7 linked regions of the Homo sapiens genome follow. The protein of the gene in region 7 purifies or fractionates together with the protein of the main gene of each other region. This does not show direct contact. Each region holds a gene or a part of one and is shown on either strand. Other genes may lie near its edges. The genes, in order: SLBP, MOB4, STRN, ZBTB10, SLMAP, ARK2N and GOLGA8G.

Region 1 (3,500 bases), on a different chromosome or scaffold from region 7:
GAGACTTTGTCTCTTAAAAAAAAAAATTTTACTTTTGGCTGAGTGCAGTGGCTCATGCCTGTAATCCCAGCACTTTGGGAGGCCGAGGAGTGCGGATCATGAGGTCAGGAGATCGAGACCACCCTGGCTAACACGGTGGAACCCCGTCTCTACTAAAAATACAAGAAATTTGCTGGGCGTGGTGGCACACATTTGTAGTCCCAGCTACTCGGGAGGCTGAGGCAGGAGAATCACTTGAACCTGGGAGGAGGAGGTTGCAGTGAGCCGAGATTGCACCACTGCACTCCAGCCTGGGTCACAGAGCAAGACTCCATCTCAAAAAAAACAATTTTTTTTTTTTTTTTTTACTTTTTTGGAACATAGCTGGCAAAGGAATAGTAAGATTCAATGTGATGGTGCTTTTTTTTTTCCCTCCTGACCGAGTCTTGCTGTTACCTAGGCTGAAGTGCAGTGTTATATCATGTCTCACTGTGTATTCATTTTTTTGAGACGGAATCTTGCTCTGTTGCCCAGGCTGGAGTGCAGTGGCGCAATTTCAACTCCACCTCTCGGGTTCAAGCGATTCTCCTGCCTCAGCCTCCACAGGCGCCTGCCACCACACTTGGTTAATTTTCGTATTTTCAGTAGAGATGGGGTTTTACCATATTGGCCAGGCTGGTCTCGCACTGCTGATCTCGTGATCCGTCTGTCTCTGCCTCCCACAGTGCTGGGATTACAGGGGTGAGCCACCACGCCCAACCATCATGGCTCACTGTAGTCTTAACTCCTGGCCTCAAGCAATCCTCCTACCTCAACCTCCTGAGTAGCTGGGACCAGCGGTGCATGCCGCCACACCTGGCTAAACTTTTAAATTTTTATAGAGATGGGAGTCTCCCTATGTCGCCCAGGCTGGTCTTGAACTCCTGGCCTCAAGTAGTCCTCCCAAAGTACTGTGATTACAAGCGTGAGCCACTGTGCCCAGCGGATAGTGATTTTTTTGAGACCGAGTTTCACTCTAGTCCAGGCTGGAGTACAATGGTGCAATCTTGGCTCACCGCAACCTCCGCCTCCCAGGTTCAAGCGATTCTCCTGCCTCAGCCTCCCAAGTAGCTGGAATTACAGGCATGCGCCACCATGCCTGGGCTAATTTTTTTGTATTTTTAGTACAGATGGTGTTTCTCCATGTTGGTCAGGCTGGTCTCGAACTCCTGACTTTGGGTGATCTGCCTGCCTCGGCCTCCCAAAGTGCTGGGATTACAGGTGTGAGCCACCGCACCCGGCCCGGATAGTGCTTTTTAATTTTTTAATTTTTTTAAACATATTTGTTCATTTTGTAGGATCTCAGTTGATTTTTTATTTATTTATTTATTTTTGAGACGGAGTCTCCCTCTGTCACCAGGCTGGAGTGCAGTGGCACGATTTTGGCTCACTGCAACCTCCGCCTCATGGGTTCAAGTGATTCTCCTGCCTCAGCCTCCCGAGTAGCTGGGATTACAGGTGTCTACCACCACGCCTGGCTAGTTTTTTGTATTTTTAGTGGAGACAGGGTTTCACCCTGTTGGCCAGGCTGGTCTTGAACTTCTGATCTCAGGTGATCTGCCTGCCTCAGCCTCCCAAAGTGCTGGGATTACAGCGTGAACCACTGTGCCCGGCTTTTTTTTTTTTTTTTTTTTTTTTTTTTTAAGGTGGAGTCTTGCTCTGTTGACCAGACTGGAGTTGCAGTGGCATGATCTAGGCTCATTGCAACCATCGCCTCCCAGGTTCAAGCAATTCTTCTGCCTCAGCCGCTGGAGTAGCTGGGACTCAAGGCATAAGCCACCATGACTGGCTAATTTTTGGTATTTTTAGTAGAGATGAGGTTTCATCATGTTGGCCAGCCTGATCTCAGGCTCTTGAGTTCAAGTGATTTGCCACACCCAGCAGCGTTTGTTTTTTTTTTTTTTGGAGGTGAAGTCTCGCTGTGTTGCCCATGCTGGAGTGCAGTGGCACGATCTCGGCTCACTGCAAGCTCTGCCTCCCGGGTTCAGGCGATCCTCCTCCCTCAGCCCCCTAATAGCTAGGATTACAGGCACAGGCCACCACGCCCGGCTAATTTTTGCATTTTTAGTAGAGACGGGGTTTCACCATGTTGGCCAAGCTGGTCTCGAACTGCTGACCTCAGGTGATCCACCCACCTTGGCCTCCCAAAATGCTAGGATTATAGGTGTGAGCCACCGCTCCCAGCCCCTAGCTGTTTTTTTGTTCTGTTTTGTTGTTTTTTTTAAATAGAGACGAGGTCTCACTGTGTTGCCCAGGCCATTTTTAAATTCCTGAGCTTAAGTGATCTTGGCATGACCTCCCAAAATGCTAGGATTACAGGCATGAGCCACCATGCCTGGTGATCTGTAATATTTAAAATAATACTAATCTCATAGTTTGGTTAATCTTCAGGCTAATGTGGAAATGTGAGTGGCATGTGGGCATGTGCTAGAATAATCTTTCTCCTGTAGACACCTTCGACAACCTGGCATTCATCCCAAGACCCCTAATAAATTTAAGAAGTATAGTCGACGTTCATGGGACCAGCAAATCAAACTCTGGAAGGTGGCTCTGCATTTTTGGGATCCTCCAGCGGAAGAAGGATGTGATTTGCAAGAAATGTATGTCTTTATTGCATTCTTGTCCTGTGATTCTCTGATTGGTCCAGTGACTGGAGCAGCTGCGCACCACTGGGACAGGAGGTCTGGTGCCAAGTCCCCCAGCAGCTGTTGGGGAGCAGAGCAGCTGCTGCAGCTCGGTGCTGAGTTCTTCTGTACTGGGAGGGAGGCAGCTGGAAGGAAGAGTTTGCTTCCTGGATTGAATTTATTTTTTCAAGCAAAGTCAATCTGGGAATACAGTTTTTGTTTGTTGTTTTGCTGTTTTTGTTGTTGTAGTTGTTTTTCCCCTAAAAATTACAATAATCTCTGGAATTTGTTTTTTAAATATAAATATCCTAAAAAGTATTTGAGTCATTTCGGCTCAACCATGAAAATAAAAGTTCTTAATTAAGGAAGGAAGGCTTTCTTTCTCTGTTGGCTTTTTTTTTTTGGGAGATGCTCTGTCACCGAGGCTGGAGTGCAGTGGCGTGATCCCGGCTCACTGCAACCTTCACCTTCTGGGTTCAGGTGGTTCTCCTGCCTCAGCCTCCTGAGTAGCTGGGATTACAGGCACGCGCCACCACGCCCAGCTATTTTTTGTATTTTTAGTGGAGACGGGGTTTCACCATGTAATTCCTGACCTTGTGATCTACCCGCCTCAGCCTCCCAAAGTGCTGGGATTACAGGGGTGAGCCACTGCTCCCAGCCCCGTTGGCCTTTAAACTTGTGCCTAGTTGAAATGTCTCAGGCCTGAACTTTTGCTGCATCATGGCAATACCTGCTGACCAGGAAGGTAGAGAGAATGATCGTGTACCTCCCTCCCTCTATGTGGGGTTTCTTCTCAGCTCCCCTCTGGTCCTGAGCCTCTCGCTTCCTCAGACACATTCTTTAAACAAACAATTAGAG
Region 2 (3,500 bases), on a different chromosome or scaffold from region 7:
CTATGTTGACCAGGCTGGTCTCGAACTCCTGGCCTCAAGCGATCCTCCCATCTCAGCCTCCCAAAGTGCTGGGTTTACAGGCATAAGCCATCACGCCCAGCCCCTTATGATTTTCTGAATAACATTTTCTCTAGCTTCCTTCATTGCAATACACTATATAATACACAGAACATACAAAATGTGTGTTAATCGACTGTTATCGGTAAGGCTTCCAGTCAACAGTAGGCTATTAGTAATTAAGTTTTGGGGGAGTCAAAAGTTAGATACTCAGATTTTCAGCTGCACAGAGGGTTGGGATCCCAATCCCGGAGTTGTTCAAGGGTCAACTGTATAATGCAAGCCATATATTTAATTTTAAATTTTCTAGGCCCAATGTGGTGGCTCACGCCTGTAATTCCAGCACTTTGGGAGGCCAAAGTGGGAAGATCACTTGAGTCCAGGAGTTCAAGACCAGCCTAGGCAACACAGGGAAATGCCCCTATCTCTACAAAAAATTTGAAAAATTAGCCAGACATGGTGGCACTATGATTGTAGTCCCAGCTACCAAGAAGGCTGAGGCAGGAGGATTGCTTGAGCACAGGAGGTCAAGGGAGGTAAGCCAAGATCAGGCCACTGCATTCCAGCCTGGATAACAGGGTAAGATTTCGTCTCAAAAAATTAATTAATTAACTTTCTAAGAGATACATTAAAAAGGGGATAACGTGAGGCCGGGCGCAGTGGCTCACGCCTATAATTCCAGCATTTTGGGAGGCCGAGGCAGGTGGATCACAAGGTCAGGAGATCAAGACCATCCTGGCTAACACGATGAAACCCCATCTCTACTAAAAATACAAAAAATTAGCTGTGCGCAGTGGCAGGCACCTGTAGTCCCAGCTACTCAGGAGGCTGAGGCAGGAGAATGGCAAGAACCCGGGAGGCGGAGCTTGCAGTGAGCCAAGATCGCGCCACTGCACTCCAGCCTGGGCAAGAGTGTGAGACTCCGTCTCAAAAATAAAAATTAAAAAATAAAAAATAAAAAGGTAACGTGAAAGAGGTGAAATTAATTTTAATATTGTAGTTTGACCCACTATATCCAAAATAATACCATTTCAGCAGGTAATTGATATAAAATTAATGGGCTACTTTTTGACTTTTAAGATATAATTGATACAACTAAAATTTACTCTTAAAAATTCAGTAGTTTCTAGTATATTCACAAAATTCTGCAACCATTACCACTAAATTTCAGAACATTTCAGCATCCCAAAAAGAAACCTTGAACCAATTAGCAGTCACTTCCCATTCTCTCCTTCCCCCAGCCCTAAGCAACAACCAACCTAATTTCTGTTTCACAGGATTTGCCTATTCTGGATATTTCATTAAAATGAAATAATATAATAAGTGGCATTTTGTGTCTGGCTTCTATTATGTTTTCAAGGCTTATCCATGGTGTAGTATGAATCAGTACTTCATTCCTTTTTTTAAAATTCAAAACTTTTTAGCCTTTAATGTTTTTAATATATACAAAATGCCGTACTGTATGTTTCTCCCTTTAAGACTTCATTCCTTTTCATGGCTGAATATTATTCCATTGTACACATACAGTCAGCACTTTGCATCTGCAGATTCAACCAACTGCAGATCAAAACTACACTTTAAAACCCCATAACAATAAAAAATAATACAAATTAAGAAATACAGTATAACAACTATTTATATAGCATTTATATTGTATTCAGTATTATATGTAATCTAGAGATGATTTAAAGTATATAGGAGGATGTGCATAGGTCATATGCAAATACTATGCCATTTTATATAAGAGACTTTGGTATCTGTGGTTTTGGTATTCATGGGGGTCCTGGGACCAATCCTCTGAGGCTACTGAGAGATGGCTGCAACACATTTTGCTTATCCATTCATCAGTTGATGGATATTTGGTTGTTTCCATTTTTTGGCTATCATAAATAATGTGACTGTGAATATTCATGTACAAGTCTTTGTGCAGATAAATGTTTTCATTTTGGGGGAACTACATATCAAGGAGTGGAATTCCTGGGTCGTATGCAACTCTATGCTTACCATTTTAAGGAACTTCCAAACTGTTTTTTGAAATAGCTGAAGCATTTTACAATCCCATCATCAATGTTTAGGGGTTCCACTTCACATCCCCGTCAGCACTTGTTATTGTCTATCTTTCCTATTTTAGCCATTATAGTGGGTATGAAAGTATATGCCATTTGGGGTTTTGATGCTTTTTTCTTAACATTTTAAAAAATTGTAGTAAAATATATACACCACAAATTTTTCCATTTTGACCCTTTTTTTTTTTTTGAGACGGAGTCTCACTCTGTTGCCCAGGCTGGAGTGCAGTGATGTGATCTCCACTCAGTGCAAGCTCCGTCTGCAGGGTTCACGTCATTCTCCTGCCTCAGCCTCCCAAGTAGCTGAGACTACAGGCACACGCCACAGCGCCCGGGTAATTTTTTGTATTTTTAGCAGAGATGGGGTTTCACCGTGTTAGCCAGGATGGTCTTGATCTCCTGACCTCGTGATCCGCCCGCCTTGGCCTCCCCAAGTGCTGGAATTACAGGCGTGAGCCACCGCGCCCAGACAGCTATTTTGACCATTTTTAAATGTACAATTTAGTGGCATTAATTTACAATATTGTGCAACCATCTTCACTGTTTCCAACTCTCAAACAGAAACTATTATGGCCAGGCATGGTGGCTCATGCCTATAATCCCAGCACACTGGGAGGCCAAGGCAGGTGGATCACTTGAGGCCAGGAGTTTGAGACCAAACTGGTCAACATGGTGAAACTCCGTCTCTACTAAAAATACAAAAATTAGCCTGGCATGGTGGTGCACGCCTGTTGTCCCAGCTACTCAGAAGGCTGAGGCAGTGAACTGCTTGAAACTGGGAGGTGGGGGCTACAGTGAGGCAAGATTGTGCCACTGCACTCCAGCCTGGGCAACAGAGTGAAACTCCAGCCTGGGCGACAGAGCGAAACTCTTGTCTCTTAAAAAAAAAAAAGAAAGAAACTCGGCTGGGCGCAGTGGCTCACATCTATAATCCCAGCACTTTAGGAGGCTGAGGTGGGCGGATCACATGAGGTCAGGAGTTCGAGGCCAGCCTGGCCAATAGGGTGAAACCATGTCACTACTAAAAATACAAAAATTAGTCAGGCGAGGTGGCACATGCCTGTAAATCCCAGCCACTTGGGAAGCTGAGACAGGAGAATCGCCTGAACCTGGGAAGCGGAGGTTGCAGTGAGCCGAGATTGCGCCACTGAACTCCAGCCTGGGCAAAAGAGCAAGACTCTGTCTCAAAAAGAAAAGAAAAGAAAAAAGTCTATTACCCTTAAGCACTAACTTCCCATACCGCCCATCCTTTGGCAGCTTCTACCTACCTTCAAATGTCTATATGAATTTATTCACTCTAGATAAGTGGAATGCTACAGTATCTGTCCTTTTGCATCTGACTTGTTTCACTCCACATAATACATACTGGATTTTAAA
Region 3 (3,500 bases), on a different chromosome or scaffold from region 7:
TTTATGTACATTTATAACTATACTGTTTGAAATAGCATTTGAGCTGTTATGGGTCAAGTTTTATTTTATACTAAATGATTAATTTTCAATTCTATTTGAAGAAAGCCATATTTATTCTGAATAGGAAATTCTATTTTTCATTTCTCGTAATTTCATATTTTAAATCAACTTAATTTTATATTAATAGTATGATTTGGTACAGCTCAATACAGATCATGTTGTGGCACTCAGAATTCCAAACCTGAAGCTTCTTATTGGATGCAGGAAGTCAGGAAATAAGTGCTTTTTCAGGTTATGAAGAAGATATTACAGACTCTTTTTTGGTTTTTGGCTTTCTTAACCATTGCTTTCTGTCGTTAGCCATAATCTAGACAATCACAGTTTAGGTTGCAGTTGATGAAGAATACGACATACATATACTCTTGTTTTAATCTGAGAACTAGCTTTAAAAGTGATGATATGTTGTGTGTGTGCACATGCATGTGTGAACATGTACATGCATATGTTTACATATGTTCTTGTGGTGTTCTCACTCTCTGTCTCTCTCTCTCTCAAAAAGTTTCTTTATTCCTTTGTGGTTTTCATCATTTTCCCTTCCTAACCTGTTGTTCATTGTTTTCTTCTGATATGCTGAGACTTGTTTGGGGAAGTAAGCATGAATAGAACTTTGAGCTACTTGGATGTAAACGAGAGAGACAGGAAAATAAATTAAACTCAGGTGATAGAATTGGAAAAGGAGAATTTTTTTCAGCAAGAAATTACAGGTTTTAGACTCTCAATAAATTTAAAATCATGTTTAAATATATGACTCAAAGCTACAGTAGCAAAATAAAAAACTAATATGAAATTAGAAAGGATGAGAACATTTTTGTAATTACCTTCAGAGATTATATGGCCAATTTGTGAACATCCTGAGTGGAAATAGTGCTTTTTAATGACTGCAGGTTAATAAGATGTCAAGTCTGGTAGATAAGATGGATAAAGAGAACTAGGCGAGTGAATCCACATTTTCCCCCAAGAGATGTGACTCTAAATTAATAGGACTTTTTACTTGACACTGGAAACATTTTGAGAAAACTTCCAAGAATGTTTTTAACAAAGGCAACATTACTGGAATAAATGATCATTATTTTGAGTTGTAATATGTCCTGACATTTTCTAAATTATGTTTTTTACTTTTAAAGTTGTATAAAGAAAACTTAAATTAGTCTCTTATTATGTTTTACTGTGAACTACCCCTTGTTATTTATAATTGATTGTGTTGTTCTGTTTTGGAATTTAGCATATTTTTTTAAAAAAATGAAAGGACCAAACAAGCTTCAAGGAGAAAGTGAGTTTTATATAGAGTTTAAAGTGATGAAGGATGTTTGTTAGAATAGGAATAAATTACCCTTCTTCTCATTGATGTCAATGGCGATTTGACTGTGGTAAAGTCAAAGGTAGTTGAAGCAGATACGTCACAAGCTAGGTATGAGTAGTGTTCTTTGCATTCTGCCGACTTCTCTGATTTATCATCAAGTGGAGAAGCTTCCTTAAAAGTGTTACCAAATAAGAACTTTCTTTTGCCTGTTTCCATGATTTGATTTCAATCATATTTATTTTCTAGCTCTCAAAGCAATTGAGGCTATTCTCTGAAACGTCTCTCTCAGAATATATGGGATATTTCACTTAAAGTATTTCTTTTTTTGTTGTTACTGTTATTCTCTTGCTGGACTTTACCACGGGTGTTGCTCAATGGAGTATTATCTGTGGAGGAAATAATGCGTAGTCTGAATTTTATAAATAAACATCTCTTTGTTTAGGATCTAAACCAGGTGTAACTGACTAAGAACTTACTCCACATGGTCAAGTGAGTTTTTGTTTTATATTTATTTTTTTTTGAGACAGAGTCTCGCTCTGTTGCCCAGGCTGGAGTGCAGTGGTGCGATCTCAGCTTACTGCAACCTCCACCTCCTGGGCTCAAGCGATTCTCCTGCCTCAGCCTCCCAAGTAGCTGGGACCACAGGCGTGTGCCACCATATCTGGTTCATTTTTGTATTTTGCGTAGAGACAGAGTTTCACCATGTTGGCCAGGCTGGTCTCGAACTCCTGACCTCAAGTGATCCGCCTGCCTCGGCCTCCTAAAGTGCTGCGATTACAGGTGTGAGCTACCGTGCCCAGCCACATTTTATATTTAAATAACAGGCTGGGTAATTACCTGCCACTAGCATTGGGAAAAGACTGTCTTCAGTTTTTAAGATGTTATATTTCTAGGAGCCACATGAAAATCCTGTAAGATTAGACTATTTTTAGCTGTATTTTCTATTATGTGAATATAAACTTGTAATACCTATTCTAGGGTTCAAAAAATTTTTTAAACTCTATTTTGAAATAATTTTAAACTTGCAGAAAAGGTACAAAAATAGTACGAGAACTTCTGGCTACCCTTCACACATATTTAGCAGTTTTTAACATTTTGTCACATTTGCTTTTTCACTCTATATATGTGTATAATTTTTAATTCTGAACCATATGAGAGACGTCATGCTCCTATTCCCCTAGATCCTTTAGCGTGTAATTCTAAGATCAAGGGCATTCTCTGATGTAGTGTATTACAATGATCAAAATCCGGAAACTTAACATTGACACAATACTATTATCTGAATTACTATTTATATTCAAATTTTGAGAGTTGTTCCAGTAATATATTTTACAAGGACACCCCTTCCTCTCCCTGGACCATAATTTAATTTTTAAAACTTTGACATACCTTCAATTAGTGTTTTCTTTATGTCAGTTTTTCTTTTCTCTTAAAAAAAGCTTAACAGAAATCACTGAGGTTTTAAATTACTGATTTCTTTTTAATAAAAGCCTTTCAGGAAGAATGTGTGATCATTTAGGAACCAATTTTGACAGTTGTGTGATCTGCATGAACCATCAGGTTGGGAGAGAGTCAGAAGTTAGAATAGGTACTGATTTTGTCACCTGATTGTGGAGGAGTCACAACTTTTTCTGAACCTTGATGTGTTCACTGTAATATAGGCTTAATGATATGTGCTTGCCTGTCTCATTGTGTGTATAATTGAAGTTTCTTTGGAACTTACTAACACAAAAAATACAGTTAGGATGCTGACTTTTAGGATTCCAAACCTAGTTCTGTCAAATGACCATTTCTATTATGATGAGGAAGAGTGATAAAGGGATTTAAGGATTAAGAAGCCCTCTTTGTCATATATATCTTTAGATGATAATGATGTGATACAGAACTTTGTATGCAAAAAGAGCTGAGATTTAAATTTGAGAATTATCTCCATGTAAGTGATGATAGAACTTACTTAAAGTAGCAAAATCTCACAGAACATTGTAGAATGAACAGCGTTAGTGGCTCTAGACTAAGCCATAGATGGCACCCACATATAGCAGGAAATTGTAATTTATAAATATTTCCAGATTTATCAGGCAATTCTCTTTCCTAACATTGAAATTTTGAAAACAGTCACAGAATAAATGAACTAAAGACA
Region 4 (3,500 bases), on a different chromosome or scaffold from region 7:
TATAGTATTCCATAATTCAAACTTGTAAGCCTTAAGTACAAAGATATCTGAATTATACATAAGTCAAAGTTCATTAAGGTGTTCCCCTTACCCCAATTAGTCTAAATTAGTACACTTGCAAAGAAATCTGAATTAAATGTCAGTCAATAAAATTCACAAAGCCAGAAGCAGTTTAGTGCTCACAAGTTTATATTTTTAGGTTTGAATAAAGATTCTTGTGTATTTTCTAAATACACAGACAAAACAGTTCCGGAAGTTTACATACATGTCTTAGGACACTTATATTAGGTAGGTAATTTACATTTTAAAAAGTTGGTCTTCGTAAAAGATCTTCCCAAAGAGCTTTTACAAACAGCAGGCGGAAGTGTTCTTTTGTTTACAGTGTTCAAAATGCCAATGCTCCCACTAAATAATGGCCTCAACCATCTCTCCTCAACCCAAAATATTGTTCTCAATAGCTAGTGTACTCCAAATTTAAGTACCCAATGTCATAAAATTTAGGGCTAGAAAACATCTTTTGAAGTGTGCTTATCCCTAACACATTTTAAACTATCTAGAATTCTTTAACTTCAGTTGAAAGCAGAGATACAGCAGGAAAAAAAAAAAAACTTTCCATTTTAAGTCCTAAAGTGACTAAACACCTGTTAGTTCTAAGTGTGGATATTATGTACCATAGTTAAGTTTAAGGATCTGGGTGACTGAACGGCACAAAAACTGGGGTTTCTATCTAGTTCTTCAGATAAAAACCATTCTTTTATAAAATTAAAATGCCACAGCCAGTTAAGAGCATGTGCTACACTGATGTGTCTTAATATAGTCAAAGTGACAAAACAACTGCTTTATGAAGAAAGAGTAGTAAGGAAATTTATTGGGGGGAGGAAAGACACTCAAAATTCTAAACACAGCTGTCTTATAGGAAAAATATAATCCATAGACTCCATTAAGAGCTGAAATTCTACAAGAGTTGTTTAATGAGGCAGCAATAGAGCCTCCCTGAAAGAGTATGGGCTTCAGAATCAGACGTGGTCAAATTCGAGCTCTGTCACAGCTGTGTTAAATTAGCCAAGTTTCTGAATTTCTCTGAGCCTTTCCTCATCTATAAAATGGAGACAATTAGCACCTACCTTATAGAGGATTAAGGTAAAATCATGTATACAGCACAACGGCAAGTGTGGGCACTCAAAAAAAAAATTGGTAGTTTTTTTAATCGTTTTTCAGAAAAATGAATCTAAACCCTTCATGCTATGTTCAGAAAATCCTAAAAAATATAAATAAAGCTTACTAAAGTTTTAAAAATTAAGATTTTTAAACCTATTTTCCATCACACTTTCCCCCGTATGATACTACTACAGTGATATTCAGGCCGTTTACACCATTTTGTATTAATATAAATGCCCAAGTCCTAATCCTTTCATTTCCTATTTTCTCCTTCCTTTCCCCCATCTTTTCTTATTTCTTTTTCCTCTTGGTTCTTATCTATTATTAAACAACTTTAAGATGTGTTATGCACCTATTATGTACCAGTGTTCTAAGCACTTTACATGAATTAACGCATTTAGCTCACTCTTCTCCATTAGGATAGCTGTACCTAACCCAGCTAGTGTGTTTTCCCCAATTTCAAAGCTACTCATTACTGTTCAGTTTCCCTTTCCTATAACGTTTCTTCTTTTTTAAACTCTTAATTGCTAGTGTGCTAAATTTAGCAAAATATCTAGTAAATAAGAAAAATGAACAGGGGTCCATATGGAAGTATCTGTCTCTGAGAACTCTAATAATGCACAATCTTGATTTATGAGACGGTCTGTAACTACAGAGTGAATATGAAAGAAAGTTTATACTCTTCCCCTTCATTAAAAGCTCTAAAATACTTTTTCATTTAAAATATAAATTACAAGAGACAACTTCGCCAAATGTGTAACATAATTCTGCCAGAGTTCCACAGACAAAATTATGAGTATTTCATTGTTACCTCTGAGACCAATCATAAGTTCTTAGTATCTATCAACTTCCTGAAATTTTACTGTAAGTCAGAAAAAGAATACACTTAAAAAAATAGAAATGTCCAGTAGTATACCTTAGTACTAAAACTATTTTTTTAAAAGATCTAGATGGGAAAAGGCAGTCCCTCGAGATCATGAAACAAAATAAGTTAGGCAGTCAGCAAGTAGAAAAATCTGTCAATTCTGTTTCCGGTAAAATGTTTACTTCAAAGAAATTTTTATATAGGCTGAGGCTAATATATTCAAGAGTATAAACACTTTTCCTTTGGATTACCTAAAAACAAACTTTTAAAGTATCATATTTCAATTGACTAAAAATATAGCCAAATCTGTCACAACACAACATAAAGTAATGGACAATTATAGAATATTTTAAATTAACAGTAACAAGCCATCTACATCAAACCTTATTTCCAACTAAAACCAAACAAAAGCACAACAATCCCGTAGTGTACCAAGTGTGTATTTCAATTTACTGTATGCAATCTAACAAAAATTTGGTCATAATTTACCAGATATACATAAATGATTTAAGTAGTAAAAGAAAATTCAGCTTCAAGAGAGTAAGTTCATATCTTGAGGAAAAGTAAAAGTACATTAAGAATGTAAAGCCAAGTCCAGTTTCTATGCAATAAGTGAACTGTAGTCTAATAAAGCAGATTTAGGTGATTTTTAGATATATATCTTTGTTCTTTAATATATATTTATATATAGACAGATCTACCAATTGTAAACTAGTTTATTTAAAGGAAGGGGATAAATGGGATGAAAGAAATCTTTATACTATACTTACATATTCACAAAGAACATTTTACGTTTAAAATACTTTTTCATTCATAGTATCTTTGCCCAACTAATTTCTACCAGAAATACATTTTACTCATTTGTCTAGAACATTAAGAAGTACTCATCTGTTTTAAACAAAAATCAAACCGAAACTATTCTTATCTGTCAGGTTTACAGTTATGTAGAAACTACAATATAGATGACAAAAGATGCATCTAACCATGTAACTGTAATTTATCTTTGATTTATCCAAGCAGAAACATCATTGTCTAACAATAAACCATTATTCTACTGAAATCAGAGACAATGATAAAGCTTGTCTCTTAAAAAACATCAACTTTTCAACTTTGATCAGATGGAGCACCAAAGGGATTATATCTGTCAAAGCATCTTTGCAATTTTTTCCACATAACTAGCATAATTTAGTTACCTGATATAAAATAGGAAAATATACTCAATTTTTATTTAAAAGAAAGCTGAAAATATGACATCCCTCAATCTTATATAATATACAATATGCTAATAAATGCCATACATGTTAACAATACGTGAAATGCTGCTGAGAGTTCCACAATCAGCTAATTCATGTCACCAGGCTAAGTAAATCTGACAATTTCACCTCAATATGTCACCCTTTGTACCCTGAAGAATTTATAGAATAATAAAGCTTCTCAGAATTTTATTTGTAAGATTTTTGAGACTGTTGAATCATGG
Region 5 (3,195 bases), on a different chromosome or scaffold from region 7:
GCCAGGCTGGTCTCCAACTCCTGACCTCAGGTGATCCACCTGCCTCGGCCTCCCAAAGTGCTGAGATTACAGGTGTGAGCCATTGCACCCAGCCAAGACTGCAGTTTTAACTCAGTTGATTTGCATGCAGTTTTTTCTCTTTGGTAGCAGATTCCCATCCTTTTGATAGTAGATAGTCACTGGAAGCAGCCAAGAGTCACCAGATTTTGGTCAAGTGTAGTGATTAAAGTGAGAGATCAAGTAGGCAATACTAGTTTTGGTTGAAAGCCTCTGACTATAGGGCAACGTGAATGGTTTTCACATGTGACTCAAAGTGGCTCTAAAGGCAATAACAACAGGAATTCCAAAACCATTGTGGGCAATTGGTTCATCACCAAACCAAGCATATTACTTCCAAAAGAGTGAACTATGAAGGCGACAAACAGAGCTAGGTGATAATGCTTTCTCAGGATTCATAATGTTACACACATATCTCACTCATACACAGAAATTCTGAATGGTTGAGTCAATCAATTCATTTAATTAAAGTAGATTAAAGTTTAGGCTTACCTAAAACTTTAATATTTGCAATATTTTTTCAGTATGACATTCTCATAAAAACGTATTCACCACTCGAATGGTACTTCACATACATTATCTTTTTAATGTTCACACTACTACCACAAATATAAGTATTATTCTCCGCATGTTATAAATGAGAAAATGGAGACTCAGAGAAAATGTGATTTGCACAAGGCAACAACATCTGATAAAAGGTAGAACCAAGATGCCAATACAGATCTGTTTTGCTTCAAACACCACGTTCTTTTTATTCTCTAACCCTGCCATGTAGCACCTTTGAATAATTCTTAAATGTATCATTACAGGGTTGTTCAATTTTTAGCTGCAATGCTTAATATTTCTTAATGACTCTATTATTACCAGTGAATAATCCTATTCTTTATTTAACGTGGAAGTGAACTGAACAAAACTGAAGGTATTGCTTATGAACAGACTTATTTCTATTCTTGAGGAAAACTGGAAGTAACTACAAAAAGCCATTTATTCCACTTGAATGAAGTAAATATTGATACTAGACCTTACATTTAAAGAGACCAGTCTAGCAAGTGACTCTCATTTTAACAATAACCATATTAAAAGAGAAAAAAATAAAGCAGTAAGTTAAATAAAAGGTTAATAAAACTTGGAGGAAACAGCTCAGTGTTTTCTTTTAAACCCTGAAGAATACCAAATGTATGTTATGTTGCATAAAGAGTCATGTCAAGAGAAGACTATTAACAACCCAATAGTAGAGTCAGCATTAAGAACTTCAATGATATTCAACTCAAACATGCGTAGGGAGAGTAAAGTTATTTTATTAAATCATGCACGTCACGTGTGTTAGTGCAAATAGTTTAATCTGTACTCCAGAAATTCTATTGTACTTTATATCTTTACAAAATAGATTTAAAACAATTATTTACTTTAAAAAATGTAATTCTGAAGTTAAGCATTTCAGAACAATATTTGCAATAACCTATATACAAGAGGTACTGGGTACCACTGGCATATTAGCATTCTGTGGTGGAGTGGCTTCCTGCAACAGAAAATGATGAAATGAACTATATGACAGTATTTTCTACAAGTCATTTGTGACTAATTCCTCCATAAATCTAGTGATCTTCCCAAAAGCAATCTCAAATAGCTTAAAATATAACCTTTAAAGTATAAACAGTGACTGCCAAACATCACAAGGCAAATTATACCCTAAACTCCTATTTCAATATTTGGCTAGACCTGTGGATTGCCACAGAACATTCAAGCCAATTCACTGACATTCCCTCCCGGTCTTCACTGACTGAAAAATTTAACTATGTGATACTTTAGGATATTCTATGACCTAAATAAACTTTATTGACATAACTATGATGCCGCACAAAACCATGGCTAAACTTTCACTTGTGTTTTAAATTTATAATATCAAGCAGTGTTTTTAGGTGCTTCATTGTGCATAGAACACTATTAATCTTGGGAATAGTGCTTTTCATTAACAGAAAGTCCCAATTAACAACAATAAAAAGAAAATAACCATTTGCATACCCAACCAGGAAATTTGTTGGTAGGTACAACGCTCACCCTGAACATGAATTAGCTCTGACACATCATAAACCAAATTAGGTCAATACAAGCTTATCTAAAGAGATATTAATACTTTCTTCAATTAAACATGCTTGGAGGAATAGATGATAGAAAAAAAAAATCATGCTTCCTAAAATGCTGTATATGAGAAAGTAACTTGGCTTTTAAAGAAAAATATCTCTTTAAATACATGGTTTAATAAATTACATTCCAATTGACTCAACATTTTGGTTGACTGCACTGAAATTGTGTAATTACTATGTTTTTGCTCCCAGAAATACTTCAGTTTGCTCAAGAAAATACACTCTCATGGAAAGTTTTTCAAAGTTGATGTCCTCCACATCTTCAAGTCACATTAAGGCTGAACAAGCGTGCACATATTCCCCAAATTATCACCATAACAGTTTATTTTCCAAACGTATTTTTCCTTAAAAAAAAAAAAATCCACGCAAATAGTTGTCTCTAAGTCTTGTTCCCAATAGCTCAGTGGTTTCATAACAAGTAAAAATGGCGTAAATATGTAAAAAATATATATATGTGTATATATTTCAAACTGATAGGCACTGAGCACACAGGGCCTCTCTTCCCATGTATGTATTGGTTGTTTGGTTTGGGTAGTTATCAAATCAGAAAAATGAATTATCTGGTGATCAGAATTCAGAGTAAAATACTCATAAATTTAATGTTATAAATAATCTGGTGTACCAAGAAGCCTACTTTAGGCCACCATAATATTCAGAATCTTAACATACTAATTTAAAAATTACATGAAAAATTGCAAGCAAATTATTGCTTACAGTAGAATAAAGTCACAATTTTATATCTTCTTTATAGACAGATACATTTTATATAATTTAAAGCAATGACCCTACAGCTGTATTCTTGTACTTCTGCTGTTTTAAGAGGTAAAGAGGAAGAAAATGGTTCTGTTTGTCCCCAGCATGAGTGTGATGCCAGCTTCTAGAGGGAGGACGGTGTACGGACTCAAGGAACGCTCTCATGGAGAAGCTCTGGCCAGACCTGGCACGTACAGCACGATGGCTGTTACTGCAACCAGGGCAGCCAACATGGGCATCC
Region 6 (3,500 bases), on a different chromosome or scaffold from region 7:
ATATATATTTTGGATGCAAGATAATCATCTAATTGCTTGGAAAAAGGCAACCTACTCTATCTTTAGTGCGTACCTATGTGATCCTAAATGGGATGGGGCTGTGGACCTGGGTTGAGATGCTGCTGTTGATTAAAGTGAACCCCTGAATAGTCTGCTCAATAACTAGGCTTGCTATTTTGTTGTGAAAGGGAAAGACAGGACCCAGATTAACCATTAAAATTTTAACTTACACTCACACCATAAGAATGACCATCTGACTAATAGTCCAAGCCTCAAAACTATTAACTGGCTCCTAAGCATAAATTCTATTAATATTTTATTGAGACACTGTAAGCACATTCAGATATCTTCACAAGATGAGTTCCACTATGATAATCACATCAAGACTACAGTATTATTTTTATTTATTACCCACATACCAGTATTGTCAGATTTAAGAAAAAAAAATGCCTTTGAAAGAGCCAATAAGCTTCATAACAAAATGTCATGGGGATCTGCTGAGCAGTGGTGACTGCATCCTATGATATACAGAAACCTACACAAAATTTATAGTCCAATATGCACAAATGCTCTCTCTATATATTAATTATATCCTAGAGAAATTATCATATACATATACCAAAAAACACATAAAGAAATGTTAAGAGCAGTATCACTTAAAATAGCACCCTAAATGTCCAACAAGAGAATGGGTAAATTGTGATATATTCATATAGTGGAATACTAAATAGCAGTGGAAAATGAATGAACTAGAGCCACACATAACAACAACAAAACTCATAAAATGTTTAACTAAAAAAGCACATTTCAAATGATTACCTTCAATGTGATACCAATTAGTTTTAAAAACATGCTTATTTAGATATATAACAAATGTAGTACAAATATATAAAGAAATACACAGGAATACCACACATTAAATATCCAATTTAGGATAGCTTTGGCATGGGAAGGGCAAAGGGAAGGAAAACATCTGAAGCCACAGTTGTTTTCCTCCTCACATACTTTTACCACGTTTTATTTCTTAAAAAGAATGGTTGTAGTTTCTTAAGAGTGATTTTTAAATAGGCTAACAATTACTTGAATCTGAAAATGTGAATGCCATCCCAAAAGCTAAACTTTAATGATATTTTAAAACCGCAAACTTTGCATTATTCGGTCAAGTCATAAGAAATGGCTGATTTTTTGTAGGTCAAAAAGTCAAATATTAACAATTCCATACGGTTCAATCTAATATTAAGAATTCTGCATATGAAGAGCAAAACGTTGGTAATCATTCATTTTTTACCCCAAAACTTTACCATAAAATGGTCTATATTTAACGGCAAGACTCAGAAAACAGAGAAATAAAACTGAAGTGGAATGGATGACTTAATTGCCAAAGGATGAAAAACAAAGATAAACCATCTAATATACAAATTACAAGGCTGGGTGCAGTGGTTCACGCCTGTAATCCCAGCACTTTGGGAGGCCAAGGCAGGCGGATCATCTGAGGTCAGGAGTTCCAGAGCAGCCTGGCTAACATGGTAAAACCCCATTTCTACAAAAAATTAGCCAGGCGTGGTGGTGCGCGCCTGTAATCCCAGCTACTCAGGAGCCTGAGGCAGGAGAATCGCTTGAACCCAGGAGGCGGAGGTTGCAGTGAGCTGAGATCGCGCCATTGCACTCTGGCTTGGGCAACAAGAGCGAAACTCCATCTCAAATAAATAAATAAATAAATAAATAACTTAGAAACACATATTGTACAAAATGTGGCCAAACTACTTTCCACTGATATAAAGCATTATTACTTCTTTTTTCTTTTTTGGGGGGATACAGTCTAGTTTTGTCACCCAGGCTGGAGTGCAGTGGCACAATCTTAGCTCACTGCAACCTCTGCCTCCCAGGTTCAAGCAATTCCACAGCTGAGATTACAGGCGCCCACCACCACGCCCACCACCACACCCATCACGCCCAGCTAATTTTTGTATTGTTAATAGAGACGGGGTTTCACCATGCTGATCAGGCTGGTCTTGAACTCCTGACCTCAAGTGATCCTCCCACGTCGGCCTCCCAAAGTGCTGGGCTTACAGACGTGAGCCACTGTGCCCAGAAGCATTATTACTTCTTTTCAAAGTATTTGTATTAATACATATTAATAAATCCTTAAAAGACACTTGTTGGGCAAAACAAGGATTTATACATATAAAAACTGAAGTCCAGAGGAGAAACAACTGGTCCAAGGACAAACAGGCAGCAGTTACCAGTCAAAAAAAATCAAAACTAAATTCAGGTTCAGTTCCAAAATTAGCTACAGTAAATCAATCAGGTCAACAAACAAGTGATTTTTCTGTAATTCCAATCAAAGATTATGAAAGGAATAATTTAAGACAACAACAATCAATGGAGTTCTGTCTCAATATAAAAAGTTCTAAACTATAACTCATTTTTTTGTAAAACTCATTTTTCATAAAAATAACTTTAGGTAGTGATTAAACTATTAGATTAACTCATAAAACCAATGCATTTATAAATTAACTAGAAAACTATAATCTTTCAGCAACACTGAAGAAATTATACACTGCATAAGCAGTCTCTCAATCCCCTTCTCTTCTTAAATGTTCAGTGCTAGTATTTTCACAACAACAACAAAACAAGGTTTAAATTAGAATGCTGAAAGAAACTTTTGAAGAAAATATTGAAGAAGACTTGGAGGTATTGTGAAAGTTTTTCAAAGGTAACAGCAGTGGATTTTTTAGTGAATAAATACCACCTTAAAGAATAATCACAAAACTAAAAAAATGTAAGACAGGGACAGAGATTTTTTTTCCTGAGCTAACAGAGACAGAAACTAAAAGAAAGGAGTTAGAAAAGACAAATGAGAACTTACTGACGAGGAATTAACAGGGTCACTCCACAGCAAGAAGCACAAGAAACAGCGGCAGCGCTGTGTATGAACAGCCAGCCCCACAGGGAGAGATTCAACGATTCCCTATCCAAGCTGCAAGGTCACTACCCAGAATTAAAGTGAGAGAAAGAACTGGCCAAAGAATATGAGCATATCTGGGTCATTTTTGCAAATATTGGGCATTTTTAATCCAAGAAATATGCCTACTGAAACCTACCAATACCTACAATTAATGTCTTAAATGCTCTTATTTCTACTTCCTTCTGAGTAGGAAAGATGAATGACAAGCTATCCAAATTGTTTCAGGTATAAATGGCAGCCTGGATAGTCACAACCAATCATTCAATGCCAGATGTCTCTGGTATGACCTGTTCTCCTCATCAGGGTCCACTACAAGGAAAACAGCTCCAGGACACATGCATATTACACCGTTAGAGAAGGGGGATGGGGAAGACCAACCTGCCTCTGCATTCAGCTCCTCTAGAAGCCCGCTGGTCCTCCAGGTAGCTCCTGTGTCCTGGCCGCCTACAGAATTACTGTGCTCTTGAACTACTGCAGCCGCCAATAAATTGTCCACATTTACCACTTCTGGGTCAGAGTTGGTGTCAGACAT
Region 7 (3,500 bases):
CCTCACCTGGAGGGACCCCGGAGCATGCAGCATGGCTCTTTTTTTGCTGCCCTGTTTGCTGACTCTCCCCTCTCCAGACGCCCCTGCTCGAGTCCTTGCTACACACGCCCTGGGATTGTTGCCTCTTGGGGAAGTGCTAGCCTGACTGGTTGTCAGGGGCCCCGTATTTCTGCCATGACTCAGTCCCTAATTTGCTCTTTGATTCTGGACAAGCCACCTCTCCTTTTTGGGCTCATGTTTCCAGAGGAAGTAGTGAGTATCAAAGGTCTCTGTTAGCTCTCGAGTCTGAGATTTAAAGGCCTCCTAGAATGGAAACCTCAGGGCCAAAGGCTCCTGTCTGTCCTTTTCCGCCCTAAATCTTCTGTGAAGAACCGTACTTGGCCCGTACGTGCTCAGTAAATGTTTATTGAATGAATGCACTTTTCTAAATCACAAGCTGGCAGAAGGGGGGGCCTTTCTCAAACTCCATCTCTAGAGGTTTATGTTACTGTCCTGTCAAGAGATTCCAGATTCAGACCTTGAGTTCTGTGGCTGTGGACAAAAGCCAACAAAGACCCAAATCCTCTGTCCTTGGGAGCTTGAGGAGAGTTTACCAGTTCGAGTTCCCACTGGGTCTGAGAACTTTGCCTTTAAAATCCATTCCTGGCCCCTGCCTACCACTTCCTGCTCTGGGGAATAGAGTTGAGGGGGCCACCCTCCATCACCTTAATGTGACTCTCCCCACAGAAACAACAGAATAAACAAGTGGAACATCAGCTGGAAGAAGTAACATGATTTCTTTGTTTGCTCGCGACATGACTGCTCGGTTTGGGGGACACTCAGATGTAGAGGCCCCGAGTCTCGTCTCACCCACTCCCAGCCTGGGGAAGAAGGCTCACCCCCCAGAGTCCACCCCATCCCCCACAGGGTCCCTGATAACCCGGTCCCATGGGTGGGCCTGTCCCGGGGCAGGGGCAGTGGTGGCATTCTGGGGACATGTCTCTTGCAGTACCATCTCTGCCTCTGCCTGGTTAGATCTCTGTCTTCCTCTTCCTACAGGAAAAGAAAGCAAACAACGAGAAACAGAAAGCCGAAAGGGAGCTAGAGGTGAGTGGACGGTGTGCAGTTTTCTCCTGTCCTCCGGAGAATGTTTCTTTCCTTCTCTTTCAGCACTTGCTTGGCTTTTCTCCCAAAGGTTCAAATCCAGAGATTGAACATACAGAAAGGGAAACTAAATACGGACCTGTACCACACGAAACGTTCTCTCAGATACTTTGAAGGTGGGAATCTGGGTACCCTGTCATCCTTCAACCTGGCACTTTGACAGGTCTTCAGGGGGAGTCCTTTGGGCCCCATCTCAACTCTCTCATTACAGAAGAGTCCAAGGATCTGGCCGTCCGTCTGCAACATTCATTGCAGCGTAAAGGAGAGTTAGAGCGGGCTCTCTCTGCTGTCACCGCCACACAGAAGAAGAAGGCGGAGAGGGTGAGTCCAACCACCTGCCCCGTCCCCTGGGAGCCTGGCTTCGCAGACAGAGGAGTGAGCCTAAAGGTCCCTTCTGCAGGATGGAGTGTCCTGCCCAGAAGGCAGCATGGCCATTTCTCACTGCTTTTTTGTATGGTTGTTAGCGGCAGCTTGGGACTGAGTCAGCTGCTGTGGGTGAGTTGGGGGGCACTCTGGGGAGAGAGCACAGGACGTAGAGCTTGGAGGCCAAGTGCCTGCCATGCCTTTACCTGGCTGTGGTCTTGGCCAAGTCCTCAGTGGGTATTGGGTACTTGTACTGTGAAGGTACAGAAGAGTACCTTTAGTATGTTACCATTTCTGTAGAGAGAGGAAACGTGTGTGTGTGTGTACATATTATGATAATATACATAAAATATGTTTGCAAGTGTTCATAAAAACTCAGGAGAGAGCAACAGGGTGGCTGGGAGATACTTCCCTTCTGTACCTTCTGAGTTTGGGACTATGTGAATGTATTATCCTTTCAAAAAGTGAACAAAAGATTAATTTTCCCCTTCCTAGCTGTGCCCCCACCCCCAGCAAGAAAAATGGGCTTAGAGAATTGGATAGATCTGGGTGTTTAAATCCCAGCTCTGCCTAAGTGATCTTAGGCAAGCACTTAACCTCAAATACTCCATGTTTTTTCATCTACACAATAGAGGTCATCATAGTAACTGTCTCCCATGGTAGTTGCGAGGATTAAATGGGATTGCTAGCATGGTATCTGGTGAAGCACTCCATAAAAGTTCAAACAGTGGTAATAATAACAGTAATAACAATAGCAATATTATCTGATCTCTCTGGGCCTCTGTTAGCCAGCTATAAATTCGATCTCTTTCCCTGTCCCTTCCAACTTTACTGAGTTCTTTAAAAACCAAACCACGGGCTTGGAAATGCCTTGATCTTTACTGACCGAGTTGTATATTGGGCCTAGCCCTGGCCCTTTTAAGGGGCACTGTGTGGAATGGCCCGGCCTCACCAGATTGAAACTTCTCACTCTTCAGCAGTTCTCCAGCCGCAGTAAAGCACGTATGGAGTGGAAGTTAGAGCAGTCCATGCGGGAGCAGGCACTGCTGAAAGCGCAGCTGACACAGGTGAGGTGTTCAGAGGGAGGGATGTGGAAGGAAGATGACCCCAGGTAACCAGGAGCAGGTGAGGACCAGTGACAGCCCTTCCTAATTTCTGTGCCCATTCTTGCAGTTGAAGGAGTCACTTAAAGAAGTCCAGCTAGAGAGGGATGAATATGCTGAACATCTAAAAGGAGAGAGGGCCCGGTGGCAGCAGAGGATGAGAAAAATGTCGCAGGAGGTGAGATCTGACCCTTCAGCCCCCCCACATTAGATAGGTCACTGGATCTTTCTGGGCACCTGTAAAATGGGAATAGTAGAGCCAGAGGTGGTCCTGGGACTGGGCTTTGTGGAGGTGGGGGCAGAGAGGGAGATGGTAGCATGTCCAGCCTCCAGCCCCTCTCTCCAGGGCCCTTTCCCCCTGTGCTTTGGGCAGGTTTGCTCGTTGAAGAAGGAGAAGAAGCATGATAAATATCGGGTAGAGAAGCTGGAGAGGAGCTTGTCCAAACTCAAACACCAGATGGGTAAGATGGGGCTGGCGTGACCTGGCAGCAGGACTGGCATCAGAGGGCTGTGAGGGTGGCTTGGAGTGCCCCAGCGAGGTGGGTGGATGGAAGGGCTTTGAGGCAGAGGGAAAGAGGTCTGTGCCAGGAGACGGCAAGTCTTGTCATCTCAATGAGCCTCAGTGTCCCCATCAGCAAAGAGGGCCCGTTGTCAGCCACCCGCAGTGCTCTTTCTCTGAAAGTGCTTTGGAAGACTGGCTACCATCTGGGTGCGAGGAATCATTAGCAGTGAGGCTAAGTTTGAGGAGCCGGAGAGGAGCTGTGCGCCAAGAGGAGGGTTTTTTCTTTTCTTTTCTTTTCTTTTTTTTTTTTTGGAATCCAGAGGCTCTTATTGTCTGCTTCCTTTCTCAGCTGAACCTCTGCCCCCGGAGCCCCCAGCAGTGCCCTCTGA

The links.
Region 1: the proteins of GOLGA8G (region 7) and SLBP purify together in Homo sapiens (affinity purification with mass spectrometry; one large-scale study listed by BioGRID and IntAct). This does not show direct contact.
Region 2: the proteins of GOLGA8G (region 7) and MOB4 purify together in Homo sapiens (affinity purification with mass spectrometry; one large-scale study listed by BioGRID and IntAct). This does not show direct contact.
Region 3: the proteins of GOLGA8G (region 7) and STRN purify together in Homo sapiens (affinity purification with mass spectrometry; one large-scale study listed by BioGRID and IntAct). This does not show direct contact.
Region 4: the proteins of GOLGA8G (region 7) and ZBTB10 purify together in Homo sapiens (affinity purification with mass spectrometry; one large-scale study listed by BioGRID and IntAct). This does not show direct contact.
Region 5: the proteins of GOLGA8G (region 7) and SLMAP purify together in Homo sapiens (affinity purification with mass spectrometry; one large-scale study listed by BioGRID and IntAct). This does not show direct contact.
Region 6: the proteins of GOLGA8G (region 7) and ARK2N purify together in Homo sapiens (affinity purification with mass spectrometry; one large-scale study listed by BioGRID and IntAct). This does not show direct contact.

What each region holds. Positions count from the first base shown.
Region 1 is NC_000004.12:1,695,320-1,698,819, reverse strand, and holds part of SLBP (histone RNA hairpin-binding protein), read left to right. Parts: intron 1-2,468; coding exon 2,469-2,618; intron 2,619-3,500. UniProt on the Homo sapiens protein: RNA-binding protein involved in the histone pre-mRNA processing.
Region 2 is NC_000002.12:197,543,566-197,547,065, reverse strand, and holds part of MOB4 (MOB-like protein phocein), read right to left. Parts: intron 1-3,500.
Region 3 is NC_000002.12:36,851,537-36,855,036, reverse strand, and holds part of STRN (striatin), read left to right. Parts: intron 1-3,500. UniProt on the Homo sapiens protein: Calmodulin-binding scaffolding protein which is the center of the striatin-interacting phosphatase and kinase (STRIPAK) complexes.
Region 4 is NC_000008.11:80,520,726-80,524,225, reverse strand, and holds part of ZBTB10 (zinc finger and BTB domain-containing protein 10), read right to left. Parts: 3' UTR 1-3,500. UniProt on the Homo sapiens protein: May be involved in transcriptional regulation.
Region 5 is NC_000003.12:57,927,309-57,930,503, reverse strand, and holds the end of SLMAP (sarcolemmal membrane-associated protein), read right to left. Parts: coding exon of another isoform or gene 3,116-3,195; 3' UTR 501-3,115; downstream 1-500. UniProt on the Homo sapiens protein: Associates with the striatin-interacting phosphatase and kinase (STRIPAK) core complex, forming the extended (SIKE1:SLMAP)STRIPAK complex.
Region 6 is NC_000018.10:46,240,034-46,243,533, reverse strand, and holds part of ARK2N (protein ARK2N), read right to left. Parts: coding exon 3,347-3,500; intron 1-3,346. UniProt on the Homo sapiens protein: AMPK substrate important for exercise capacity and skeletal muscle function.
Region 7 is NC_000015.10:28,526,472-28,529,971, reverse strand, and holds part of GOLGA8G (golgin subfamily A member 8G), read left to right. Parts: intron 1-726; coding exon 727-765; exon of another isoform or gene 766-1,038; coding exon 1,039-1,086; intron 1,087-1,174; coding exon 1,175-1,259; intron 1,260-1,354; coding exon 1,355-1,464; intron 1,465-2,483; coding exon 2,484-2,573; intron 2,574-2,679; coding exon 2,680-2,787; intron 2,788-2,982; coding exon 2,983-3,070; intron 3,071-3,460; coding exon 3,461-3,500.